Homo sapiens: one gene and its partner. The protein of the gene in region 2 purifies or fractionates together with the protein of the main gene of each other region. This does not show direct contact. Each region holds a gene or a part of one and is shown on either strand. Other genes may lie near its edges.

What was found. Proteins that work in one complex are often made in the same cells at the same time.
Region 1: the proteins of OCLN (region 2) and DNAJC13 purify together in Homo sapiens (affinity purification with mass spectrometry; 2 studies listed by BioGRID and IntAct, with this or other methods). This does not show direct contact.

The regions. Positions count from the first base shown.
Region 1 is NC_000003.12:132,497,472-132,504,501, reverse strand, and holds part of DNAJC13 (dnaJ homolog subfamily C member 13), read right to left. Parts: intron 5,377-7,030; coding exon 5,192-5,376; intron 4,769-5,191; coding exon 4,694-4,768; intron 3,709-4,693; coding exon 3,589-3,708; intron 2,214-3,588; coding exon 2,034-2,213; intron 1,289-2,033; coding exon 1,121-1,288; intron 1-1,120.
Region 2 is NC_000005.10:69,495,768-69,502,797, reverse strand, and holds part of OCLN (occludin), read right to left. Parts: intron 1-7,030. UniProt on the Homo sapiens protein: May play a role in the formation and regulation of the tight junction (TJ) paracellular permeability barrier.

The DNA of each region.
Region 1 (7,030 bases), on a different chromosome or scaffold from region 2:
TGGGGGTGGCTATAAAGGTTAATCCCAAACTTGTTGGCATTTCTGAAGAGAATGCTTTCAGTCAGCAAAATGTATCACATTGGTGAGCAAAAAGTCCAGGAAAATAACTAACATCAGGAGTGGTCCCTGGTCGTCTAGTGTTTTAGGAAAAATAGTAAAAACAAAAACAAAATTAAAAAAAAAAAAAAAAACCAGTAGCATCTAGAGCTCCTGCCTTTCACACATGGGAACTGAAAAGCATGGCAAGCACTGAAAATTGGACTCAATCACATTGGATTAAAAACAAATAACCTGTTTAAAAGTTGTAAAAATACTTTGGAAACCTGAGGATTTTTTCACTTACAAAAGTCACAGTTCATCCTTAGCGAAAACAAAAGAAAAACTGCCTATAATTATGCCATTCAGGAATAATTACAGTTAACATATGGGTACAAATCTATCAATCCATTTATTTTGTTATACCAAAAATAGGATCTAGTGTCTTCATTTATTTTAATGTCTTTTAGTACTCTTTTTTTTTTTATAATTAAAGGATAATAGTAACCTGTTTAACTGATTTCTATAGTTTATCAAATTCTTTAGTGCTACATTCTCAGATTATTTCTCAATAATCCTTGCAAAAGAAGTTAAAGAGGTTGGGAGATCTATCATGTCATACTGATTTTTGTAATGCATCTATGTATGTACATAGATACATATACATGTATATGTGCATGTATGTATTTACTTTCAGGATTTTAACCCTGTGTCTGAATAAGCTATGGCTTACAATAAATAGCTTGAAATAGACTCTGGGTCTCCTGTCTCCCAGTAGTCTGCCATTGTGAAACACCATTCCAACTTCACTCTCTCGTCCTGTCCCTTTGTGACTCAAGGTTGGTAAGAATTATGATAGGCTCCACAGCTGAGAAACAAAGTTAATTTGCCCTTGCAAAAACTGGACTTGTAGAACTGACATCATTAGCATCAATCCATTATAAAGTGAATTTCTTGCTTGAGAGAACAAACATGTGAACGTTCTTAATTTTTAGGTTCCCTAGATCAATATTATTGTACTACTTTACTGCTTAAAGGATCTTGCACTATTGATTAAAACCCAGGCTACCTGTGAAGCACATACCTCAGTCACACTAGCCACAGCAAGTTTTCTAGCAACATAGGGTGTCAGCATGCCAGCTAAGCTTTTCCTTATGGTTGGATTTTCTGGAGTTGCTTGTTCTTCAGCCAAATACCCTCCAAGGCGACTCAGAGCATGGACACTCAGTTTGGCAAGGCTGTTTGCTACCTCCTGTTATAAAAAAAATTAAGTTGTTAAAGTAGATCTGTTATCTTACATAGGTAATACTATAATTTTACAGAATCACACTATATGGAACATATTTAAGGAGTAAAAAGTCAACCAACAAAAGGGTACAAGAGTACCTACCACTGAGGTAAACATCAGAAAGTTTATGTGTTGGGGCTTGTTTTTTATTTATAAGAAGGACCAGGAGAATCTATGTACTAACTTATACCCAATGCAGTATATCTCACAGACAACTGGAAGAAGCACATTTGGTGGTAATGTGGGGAGTAGGGGATAGGTAGGCAGCCCTGCCTGCTAGAAGCACACATTTACAATATGAGCAATAAATGAGAGCACATAGAAGAGACAGAAAAATATCTATAAAAATCAGACAAGTACTCAAGTGTTTAGGGGAGCTAGCCTCAACTGCCTGATGGTAACATTATATTGTCCTGTGTTACACAACCATAATTTTGCCATCATAAAGTTGACTCTGAGTAATTAAGAAATTATTAAATTATGTCCAGTATATGCTATTGCAAATTCCCTTGCCTGGAATCCTTTAAGCATAAGCAATTACAACTAAAAGTTTTGTAAGTAAGTGATTAGGTTTAAAAAGCAAAAAACCTAATTTTCCTGAAAAACAATTTATCTCTGGGGACTCTGGATAGCAGCTTTGGTTTGGATTAGTTTAACACCAACCTAAGGTTTGGGTTCAAATTCAATATTAAAGCAATGTTAAAGTTACCTGCTGGTTTGTTTCTTCACTTTTCTGAATGCCACTCTCTTCTAGTGTGTAGTCATAATTAAACAGAAAACCAAGGAGATACCACAAAATTCCAGCCTGAAATAGGTGTGTCTGTAGCCAGAAATCCACAGCAAAAGAACTGACACATTCTACCCCAAGAGCAGCTACGCGGGGAATACTCTGAGAGAATAAAAATGAGAGCATTAGTTGTTACAGAGTTAAAAAAAAAAAAAAAAGCTCCCAAGAGGAACTGGTTGTGCATGTATGTCAAGCCAACCACGTTATTTTGTAAAATGTTTACCTCTTCTTACATTTTCAATTCCAATTTAAATCTGAATCCTACATCCTTTAAAGCCTAAAATTAAAAGTGACCTCATGACGAGATACCAGAATTACTACCTTTAAGGCTAATGTCAGAAGACTTGGGAATAGTTTCCTGTTTCACTTCTTGTATTTTTAATTTTTAAAAATAGTGACATGGCATCAATAGCAACTTACACGCTAGTGATCTTAAATGTAACGACATATTTTGTGCAGTTGTTAAAAGATTTATTTATGTCAGTTTTTTATTCTGTAATCAAATACTTCTAAGGACATTAAGTAGATATAGTAGAGGAGATATTTTCATCAATTCCCTCACTTCTTGATACTTTAGTACTAGATCAGCATCTCGATCCTGTTTTATTCAAGACAATTCTCACTCTGCCCAGTTATTTAAGACATTTCTCTCTCCCTCCCAGTCATCTATCTCATCTACCCACAGTCAACCTTCCTCAGCAGGTCTGGATTGGGAGGAAATAGTAAGTTCTCAGATCTCTAAAGCCTTTCCCACCAAGCAGTGCCGAACTCTCTAGTTTTCAGGTTTTACATGGCCCTGTTTTTTTTTCTTTTTTTTTTTTGAGACAGAGTCTCACTCTCTTGCCCAGTCTGGAGTGTAGTGGCACAGGCTACCTCTGAAGCATATATCTCAGTCACACTAGCCACAGAAACATAGGGTGTCAGCATGCCAGCTAAACTTTTCCTTATGGTTGAATTTTCTGGAGTTGCTTGTTCTTCAGCCAAATACTCAGCCTCCCGAATACCTAGGATTACAGGCGCATGCCATCATACCCAGCTAATTTTTGTATTTTTTTGTAGACAGGGTTCTGCAGTGTTGGCCAGGCTGGTCTTGAACTCCTGACCTCAAGTGATCTGCCAACCTCGGCTTGCCAAAGTGCTAGGATTACAGACGTGAGCCACCACACCGGGCTGGCCTTTTGCTTTTAAAAGACTTATTTATTACAGGCTTCTCTTTTCTCCCTGCCACTCATTCTAATGTTCAGATGGAACCCACTTCCCTTTAGATGTATCACTTTAGTCTTTTTCTTTGTAGGCCAGCCTAGAAGCAAAGCCTCCATTTACAGCAAGGCTTCTGTGAAAAATGCTTTTAGAAATCCAAATAATTTTACTTACAAATAACTTTGGGAAAACAATGTGCTTATACATTAGGAACTGGCTAGTTGACAAAAAGACACTTTGCTGTCTGTATCTAGAAAGCATTAAAGATTAACCCTACCTTGCCAAAATATAGTACCCGACAGAGATCCTTGATGATGCTAGGCATTTCCGTGATCTTCTCTCGGCATTCCTCAAACTGAGCAGCCACACTGTAGCATTTACTTATGTATCCACACACCTGCAGACAACACAACAGAGCAAAAAAACCAGTAGAGTCACATAGGCATTCCTTATTTAACACATAGAAATCAAACCAGCAGAAATTTGTGAATAATGCTTAATGGTATATACAATGTTCCAAAATTAAACAGAATGTCTTTACTAGATCACTAGTCTTTCTCATTAAGATTTCCTATAAATGCTGGGGTAGTTGGCAAACCACAGCTACTACAACCCATGGGCCAAACTGACCATGGTCTTTGTACTGCCAAAGAGCTAAGAATGGTTTTTAGATTTTTAAAGGGCTGTAAAAAAGTCACAAAAGAAAATGTAACAGAGACTGTATGAAGCCTGAAAGACTCATATATTTACTCCCTGGACCTTTATTTTAGAAGTTTGCTGGCCTCTGGATTAAGGTAATTTTGTATAGTTTATTAACATAGCAGAATATCACAATTCTGTTTACACAACGGACTTCAAAATAGAGGATGGAACTCAACAGCCAGTACTCGTTTTATATTCTGAATTTTGCTGGCATAAGCAAAAGGTCAAATAGAAAGACACGCTCTACAAAGCTCTTAATGAACTCCTGATGAATTTCCTATCTTACAACCTTAAATGTTAAGCCAATTAAAATACTAGAGATAGGAGAGTGAGGGATGGAAGATATGTGAAACAAGAATGGCATTAAGCTGGGTAATGGAAACATATGGGTTCAATAAACTATTCTCTAAGAAAGAAAACGTAAGCCAACAGATCACAAGTGCTTTAGTACAGTTTCTTACAGTGTGATACACAGACCAGCAGCATCAATGACACTTGGAAACTTGTTATAAAAACATACTCTCAGGCCACCACCCCAGACTCACTGAATCAGAAACTTGGGGTGGGGTGGAGCTCAGCAACCTACAGTTTAATGAGCCCTCCAGTTGATTCTCAGATATGTTAAAGTCTGAACCATTGAACTAGTGCAATTTTCTTGGAACCACAGGTTTTAGCCTCACCTGTACTGACATGTCACTTGGTTTACTAGCACGAGTCAAGACAGCCACACAGCGACTAAATGCCTCTTGTAACACCTGCAGAGGAAGAAGTCAGCTATTAACTCTCCATTTTGACTTCAAGTCTGAAAGGCCTTTTCTAGCAGTAATAAAATATAAATAACCCTTTAATGTTAAATATTTGATACATAAATGTTTGATCAACATTTGTTAATAAATAGTAAACAAAGGACTCCTAAAAGTTTCCTTTTAAGCATTTCTAATAAGCTACTTTGTAAACAATATTACCATTATCGGTTTTGAACCCAATACTTTCCAACTCACATTGTGAAATAAAGCTCCATTTCTACCTTTAATTTGGTATAAGAATATGGAAAATATTGTGTTATCTGCTGAAATAAATTAAAGAATCTGCATTTGTACTTGCTGAATTCTTCACTGCCAAGAGTCATATAATGTGTGTAAACTGGCTTAAAAAGCACAAAGGTCACTCCGTATTACCTCTAGTCCATTCTCTCTTCTGAGCTCTTCAGCATTGAGGGCTGAACAGTTGACAGTATGGAAAGCTAGCTCTGTAGCCGCAGGCAACAATGGTGATTCTTTTGAGAAAAGGAGGTCATCTGAAGTTTCCATTGTTATAGTCCGAATAAGCATGGGGTATCCTGCATATTTATAAGGCTGTAAATCTGAAATAACCAATGGTTAGTGTTAGAAAAACAAAACAAAATTGATTATGTTGTGGTTTCAATTTTGATACCATGTTCAAGAATATGTTGCCTTAAAAAAATAAAAATGGGGCCAGGCATGGTGGCTCATGCCTGTAATCCCAGCACTTTGGGAGGCCAAGGTGGGTGGATCACGAGGTCAGGAGATTGAGACCATCCTGGCTAACACAGTGAAACCCTTTCTCTACTAAAAACACAAAAAAGTTAGCCGGGTGTGGTGGCAGGCACCTGTAGTCCCAGCTACTCGGGAGGCTGAGGCAGGAGAAAGGTGTGAACCCGGGAGGTGGAGCTTGCAGTGAGTGGAGATGGCACCACTGCACTCCAGCCTGGGCGACAGGGCAAGCCTCCGTCTCAAAAAAAATAAAAATAAAATAAAATAAAACGTAAAAAAAAAGATAAAATATTTTATCTTAACATCTTAAATGCCTCCTAATGCCAGTTGATAAAAAAAGAAATTAAACCTACTATAAAATCCCTTGGATCCTTCCTTTCTAGTAAACTTGGTTGATTTTTCTAAAATGTTTCCACTAGAAAAATAACATTTTCTGGTAAATTAACTGCACTTGGTGTATAGTTTTGATCCTTTGCAGAATACCTACTTTCTATGCTGATCTTTGTAACTTTTCACCTCATCACAGAACGCAAGGTACAGCAAATGCACCAGAAATTCTATTAATATCAATTATATGCACATCTTTATAAAGAAAAAAGACTGAGAAGACATTTACATGACACTGAATATTTTATATTAAGTTTTCTGGATAACAAGTGCCCTTGTTTATCTATTTTACCAGTATCTATTTTACCAGTTATCTTAAAGATAACTGGTATCTATTTTACCAGTTATCTTAAAGTTTTACCAGTATTTTCTTAAATTTGAAAATAATACAATTTCTTACTAGAAGTACAAAACAGAAAGTTAACTTTTAAACTACATTTAGTTAATTCCATGTTTTAATAACCAAATTTAAAAGTGAAAGCTAGTAAACCTACATGCCTAATTACTCTGTTCTTTCCATCTTCTTTTTTCAATCTAACCTATTAGGCAAAGAGATGCAAATTAATTGGCTGTGACTTTAAAAGTATCTCTATAATTCCAATTGAAATCAGCATAAATCTTTTTGACTTTTGAGGCTGACCAATAATCTGCCTTAAAACTCATTTCTAAACTGGCTTTTAAAAAAAAGGCCCCCTGGAACAGGTCCTAATTTTCCTTTAAAAAAAAAAAAAGTGACACATACGTAATAAGAAAGAACAGTGAATAACTAAGTCCTGTCAGATCAGGACCTCCACCTCAGAGCTTCTTGGGTATAAACCCCTCTTGGGAAAAGTTAAAGATGACCTTGATAACAGAGAAACCAGGATGGGCCATAACTGTATCTTGTGGCTAATAATTTAGTTATCAGCATTAAAAGACAACCAAGGGTTTTGAAAAAGGTTTCCAAACTCATTCTGATTAGTAAAAGCCATATATCTAAAATGTATTATAAACGTATTCTGTTAAACTCATGTAAAAGTAAATCAACTAATCACTGCTCTCTTTAATAATCCAACTGCTAGATCCTCAGGTTGTCCCCTCCAATACTTAAACTGCAACACCATCTCTTGTCTTTAG
Region 2 (7,030 bases):
GCTCTCCAGGAAAAAGACAAGTCTCAGCAAGATGTGGTAAACACACAACCCCCTAACCTATAAAGCTTGAGGATTATTCTAGAAAACCCAGTGCTGGAGACACTGGCAAGGTACTTCCCACATCAGCTACAGAACTTCATGCCACTCCTTAGCTATGTTGAACCAACAATAAATTCTTTCCAGGTTATACCAGTGATTAGTAGAGTAGGGAACTTTGAGATCTACTGGAAGGTAAATTCCATGTGAGCAGGAATTTTTGCATGTTTTGTTCACTGATTAAATCAATGCCTGGCACATAGTAGACGTCCAGATAATTTGTTGAATGTTTACAGGAACCAGATTGGACCATGGATATCTCTGCCTGCAAAACCTCTTGTGCTTTCAAGTTGAAGGTAACGGAAAAGTATCAGAGTAACTTTAAAAGGTATGATCCCTGAATGACACTTGAGTAACATCTATAATGAGTACATTAAAGTATCTGATTTTTTTTCCTTTTCTAATACGGTCTGTACAATCATACATTAATATATTAACAACAGTACATCAATTCAGACTCTTAAAACTTTTTTTTAAATTAATGGCAACTCTTTTTTTTTTTTTTGAGCCGAGTCTCGCTCTGTCACCAGGATGGAATGCAATGGCATGATCTCAGCTCACTGCAATCTCCGCCTCCCGGCTTCAAGCGATTCTCCTGCCTCAGCCTCCCGAGTAGCTGGGACTACAGGCGCACGCTGCCACGCCCGGCTAATTGTTTGTATTTTTAGTAAAGATGGGGTTTCACCATGTTGCACAGTCTGGTGTCAAACTCCTGAGCTCAGGCAATCTGCCCTCCTTGGCCTCCCAAAGTGCTGGGATTACAGGCATGAGCCACCACGCCCCACCTGGCAACTCTCTTCTATACCCTTTAGGACAGTGTATTTCAAATCTCTCAGAATTAAACCCTGCCCAACTATGTATTAGATAAATCCTCAAAGATGGAAATATATAGAATGTTAATAACACCAACACAATTAGCATAATTTTCCAAAGACATGAAGGAAGATGACTTTTCTACATTTTTAAAAGCCACTTTTAAAGTATACCATAGAGAAAAGTGCACAAATCATAAGTGTACACAGCCCTGTAACTAGCACTCAAGTCAATTTCTCTATACTTTTTTTTTTTTTCTTTTGAGACAAGGTCTCATTCTGTTGCCCAGGATGAAATGCAGTGCCATCATCTCAGCTCACTACAACCTGCCTCCCAGGCTCAAGCAATCCTCCTGCCTCAGCCTCACAAGTAGCTGGACTACAGGCACATGCCACCACGCCTGGCTAATTTTTGTATTTTTAGTAGAGATAAGGTTTCACCATGTTGCCCAGGCTGGTCTCAAACCCCTGAGCTCAAGCTATCCACCTGCCTTGGCCTCCCAAAGTACTGGGATTACAGGCATGAGCCAATACACCTGGCCAATTTCTCTATATTCTAGTAATGGTGAAACACACATACAAATGAGCAATTTAGGCGAAAATGTTATGGTACTATAAAAAGGCAAAAGTCCAGATTGTCTTCAGAAAAAGAACATTAAGGAATACTGAATTTAGGCCAGGTGAGGTGGCTCACACCTGTAATTCCAGCACTTGGGAGGTGGAGACAGGTGGATCACCCTAGGTCAGGAGTTCGAGACCAGCCTGGCCATCATGGCAAAACCCCGTCTCTACTAAAAATACAAAAATTAGCTGGGCATGGTGGCACGTGCCTGTAATCCCAGCTACTTGAGAAACTGAGGCATGAGAATCGCTTGAGCCCGAGGTGGAGGTTGCAGTGAGCCAAGATTGTGCCACTGCACTCCAGCGTGGGTGACAGAGCAAGACTCCTTTAAAAAAAAAAAGTAAAACAGAAAATCTGAAGTTAAGCACTATTAAATGTGGGATCCTAGTTCTGAAGCTGAATGTCAAATATCCCCAAATTCTAGGTTCAGTGGTAGTTTTGGAAACTCTAAATTAATCCAGACTCAGTCTTAAGTTGTCAAAAATTCAAACAAGATCCCTTTTCAAACTGCTATTTCCAGGATTCAGAGTTGTCACGTCTCCCCAAAAGCACGGATTTTAAATTGTGAACCAAATCATGTGGCTCATGCCTGTAATCCCAGCACTTTGGGAGGCCGAGGCAGGTGGATCACATGAGGTCTGGAGTTCAAGACCAGCTGACCAATGTGGTGAAACCCTATCTCTACTAAAAATACAAAAAATTAGAGGGGCGTGGTGGTGCATGCCTGTAAACCCAGCTACTTGGGAGGCTGAGGTAGCAGAATTGCTTGAACCTGGGAGGCGGAGTTCGCAGTGAGCCAGTATTGCGCCATTGCACTCCAGCCTGGGCAAAAAGAGCAAAACTCCGTCTCAAAAAAAAAAAAAAGAAAAGAAAGCTCGTTAAGAACAAGTCATGCCACACCAACTTCATTTCCTTTTCTGGGAAGGTTACCAAACTGGTGGATTTTATTTTCTCCTTTATTATTTCCTCTTCAGGGAATGCAGAGAGAAAGAATCCTGAAAATCTTGAGCACATCCTTGTGTGGGTGGGCAGATTCCCAAGGGGCTGGATTACGGCACCCAATTAGCACAAAAGAATGAACCATTTATGTCCACCTGGTGGGAGGTCTCCACTGGTAAACACAGACAAAGTGGAGGAGACACGCTTATCCAGATTTGCAGCTGACCAAACACACTGGAAAGGATAACTAACCCATTGGCTAGGGCCATCAACACTAAGCAAGATCTCTGTAATGTCAGAATGATGAGTTTGAAACAACCTAGTGGTTTTAACAGCCCCCATTTACTGGCTCGCAATCTGAGACAAATTCCTTATCTCCTCTAAGTGCACTCAAATGCGGGAATAATCCTGACCTCTGCACTGGGATAAGAAAAAGTCTTAAAGAGCTGGGCGCAGTGGTTCACGCCTGTGATCCCAGCACTTTGGGAGGCCGAGGCGGGTGGATCACGAGGTCAAGAGATCAAGACCATCCTGGTCAACATAGTGAAACCCTGTCTCTACTAAAAAAATACAAAAATTAGCTGGGCTTGGTGGCGCGCGCCTGTAGCCCCAGCTACTCAGGAGGCTGAGGCAGGAGAATCGCTTGAATCCAGGAGGAGGAGGTTGCAGTGAGCTGAGGTCACGCCACTGCACTCCAGCCTGGCGACGGAGCGAGACTCCGGCTCAAAAAAAAAAGAAAGAAAAAAACCACAAGAAAAAGTCTTCAAGAAAATGGGCAACTGCATTCATCATAAGGTGGTTATCCTGAAAGTAAGAAATTTCAGTGCTTAGGCACTTAGGTATATTGTATCCATTTTCAAATACAGCTGACCCTCCACATCCATGGGTTTTAAATTCTGATTCAACCAACCTCAGACAGAAAATATTCAGGGGAAAAAAAAATTAAAAATTACAGGGCAGGTACAGTGGCTCACACCTGTAATCCCAACACTCTAGGAAGCTGAAGCAGGAAGATCACTTGAACCCAGGAGTCCAAGACTGACCACAGCAACATAGTAAGACCCCATCTCCACAAAAAATTTTTCTTAAAATTAGCCAGGCATGGTGGCACATCCCTGTAAGTTCCAGCTACTCAAGAGACTGAGATGGGAGGATCTCTTGAGCAGAGGAAGTTGAGGCTGGAGTGATCATGCCACTATACTCCAGCCTGAGTAACAGTAATACCCTGTCTAAAAAAATAATAAACAATAAAACAAAAAATAGATTTTTAAAACTACAATATCACAATTCTACATAGTATTTACATTGTATACGGTATTATAACTAGAGATTATTTAAAGTCTACAAGAGGTCTGGGTGCAGTGGCTCACACCTGTAATTCCAGCTCTTTGGGAGCCCAAGACGGGCGGATCACTTGAGGTCAGGAGTTCGAGACCAGCCTGGCCAACATGGTGAAACCCTGTCTCTACTAAAAATACAAAAATTAACTGGGATTGTGCCGGGTGCCTGTAATCCCAGCTACTCAGGAGGCTGAGGCAGGAGAATCGCTTGAGCCCAGGAGGCAGAGTTTGCAGTGGGCCAAAATTGCATCACTGCACTCCAGCCTAGATGATGGAGTGAGATTCTGTCTCAAAAAAACAATTAAAAAAAAAAGTATACAAGAGCATTTAGGCCATATGCAAATACAAAGCTATTTTATAACAAGGACTTCAGCATCCTCAGATTTTAGTATCATGGGGGTCCTGGAAGCAACCTCTCACAGATACTGAAGGGTGACTATATTGGTGGCATAAATGAGTCATTTTTAAAATGTAAACTGATTTTTTTTTTTTTTGAGACAGGAGTCTTGCTCTGTCATCCAGCCTGGAATGCAATGGCGTGATCTCGGCTCAATGCAACCTCCACCTCCCAGGTTCAAGCAATTCTCCCACCTCAGCCTCCTGAGTAGCTGAGATTACTGGCACATGCCACCAGGCCAGGCTAATTTTTGCATTTTTAGTAGAAACGGGGTTTCACCATGTTAACCAAGCTGGTGTCAAACTCCTGACCTCAGGTGATCCACCCACCTCAGCCTCCCAAAGTGCTGGGATTACAGGCATGAGCCACCATGCCCAGCCATAAACTGAATTTTTAAAAAGTCAATTCCATAGTACAGTATAGAGGAGAACTAATTTAATAATCGTTCTTTTTTTTTTTTGAGACGGAGTCTCGCTCTGTCGCCCAGGCTGGAGTGCAGTGGCGGGATCTCGGCTCACTGCAAGCTCCGCCTCCCGGGTTCACGCCATTCTCCTGCCTCAGCCTCCCAAGTAGCTGGGACTACAGGCGCCCGCCACTACGCCCGGCTAATTTTTTGTATTTTTAGTAGAGACGGGGTTTCACCGTTTTAGCCGGGATGGTCTCGATCTCCTGACCTCGTGATCCGCCCGCCTCGGCCTCCCAAAGTGGTTCATTTTTAAAGGTGCATTTCTTTGGTAAGAATTTCAACAAAAGCTAACAACCTATCCCAAACTTTATTCACAGAAATAGTGCTCATATCTAGGAATAATATGCTATTAAAAAGAACAAACAAAACCTGATTTGTACATCACATTCTAAACTATGTGCCTCTCCAGGAGGGTGACTAAGATCATTAAAGATCTAGAAAAGCTGGCCAGGCACCGTGGCTCACGCCTGTAATCCCAGCACTTTGGGAGGACGAGGCGGGTGGATCACAAGGAGATCGAGACCATCTTGGCCAACACGGTGAAACCTCGTCTCTACTAAAAATACAAAAATTAGTTGGGCATGGTGGTGTGTGCTTGTAATCCCAGCTACTTGGGAGGCTGAGGCAGGAGAATTGCTTGAACCCAGGAGGCAGAGGTTGCAGTGAGCCAAGATTGTGCCACCGCACTCCAGCCTGGCGACACAGTGAGACTCTGGCTCAAAAAAAAAAAAAAAAAAAAATCTAGAAAAACCATGTCTTAAGACAAATGATTGGAAAAACAGGAAATGTTTGGCCTGGAGAACTTAACGTCAGAAGAATCGCTTTAGCAGCCCTGAAATATATGAAGAGCTGTCTTTGTTATCCTAGAAATGGTTAAAAAAAAAAAATTCCAAAAACCACAGGCTGATTTCATCTCAATGTTAGGAAGCCTCTCCCTCACCCTGACCCCACACCCTCTCCGAAAATAACTAACAACAATTTGAGCTCATGCAATTTATGCAAAGCTTAAGTTATTTGATATTTTTTTGGAGACCAGACTGGAAGACTTCTAAGGTCTCTTTCAAAGTGAATCTGTGACTGTGCTTTAAGGCCAGCAGCCAAAGGTGAAAGAGGACCAATGCCCAGCACAGCAACATTAACAATCTGTACATGTGTTGAGTGAAGGAAAAAATGAGAATGAAGAGGCCACTTATCACCTACAGGAACTTATGTCAGGAGAGTGACAAGGACAGAAGTCAGACAGCTAAATTAGAGTCGGGGGCAAAAGGGAAGCAGCAGATAGATCCTTGTCAAATATGTTAATCTGAAAACCAGCATCTTGGGCTAATGATAAAATATAAAGTGTTCTCCCCTTGACAATGTTTACTGACCAAAAGCTGTCTTAATGGAAAACTAAGCTAAGATGAAAAAAACAGGCTGAGGCTGGGCAAGGTGGCTCACACTTGTAATCCCAGTACTTTGGGAAGCCAAGGCAGAGGGATTGTTTGAGCCCAGAACTTCAAGATCAGGCTGGGCAACAGAGTAAGACTCCGTTATCTATCTTAAAAAAAAAAAAAAAAAAAAAGTATAAAAAAAGAAAAAATAGTCTGAAAATGCTTTGGCCTCAAATTATTCTTTAAAGAAAACTGTCAATAAGTGAAAAATAAACTTTATTGTATTTAAGAGAAGTCTGTTCCTTTTAGAGCACATGCAGTAACTGTCAATTTGCCTTTAAAAAGTTTAAGTTGTGGCCGGGCGCGGTGGCTCACGCCTGTAATCCCAGCACTTTGGGGGGCCGAGACGGGAGGATCACGAGGTCAGGAGATCGAGACCATCCCCGCTAACACAGTGAAACCCCGCCTCTATTAAAAATACAAAAAATTAGCTGGGCATGGTGGCAGGCGCCTGTAGTCCCAACTACTCGGGAGGCCGAGGCAGGAGAATGGTGTGAACCCGGGAGGCGGAGCTTGCAGTAAGCCAAGATCGTGCCACTGCACTCCAGCCTGGGAGACAGCGAGACTCTGTCTCAAAAAAAAAAAAAAAAGTTTAAGTTGTGCCTTATATTAAATGATTTAGACTACAGGCACATCATTAGTAAATTGTCTAAAAATTTGAAGTTAGGCAGATTTTGTAATAGACTCTGTGTCAGAAATTGTATTTTTAATAAATCTTCCAGGTGATTTTTAAACACATCACATATTTTGAGAATTGCTGTCTACAATAAAGGTGTCAATCCAAAAAGGACATTGATCTTGCAATTTCCTGTCTAGAAAGCCCAGATCTTTTACACAACAGACACCTGCTGTTCAGGTCTCAGCTCAGACGTCACCTTCTGGGAGATGCCCTCCCTGTCCCTCACTCCATCACACAAAACTTGTT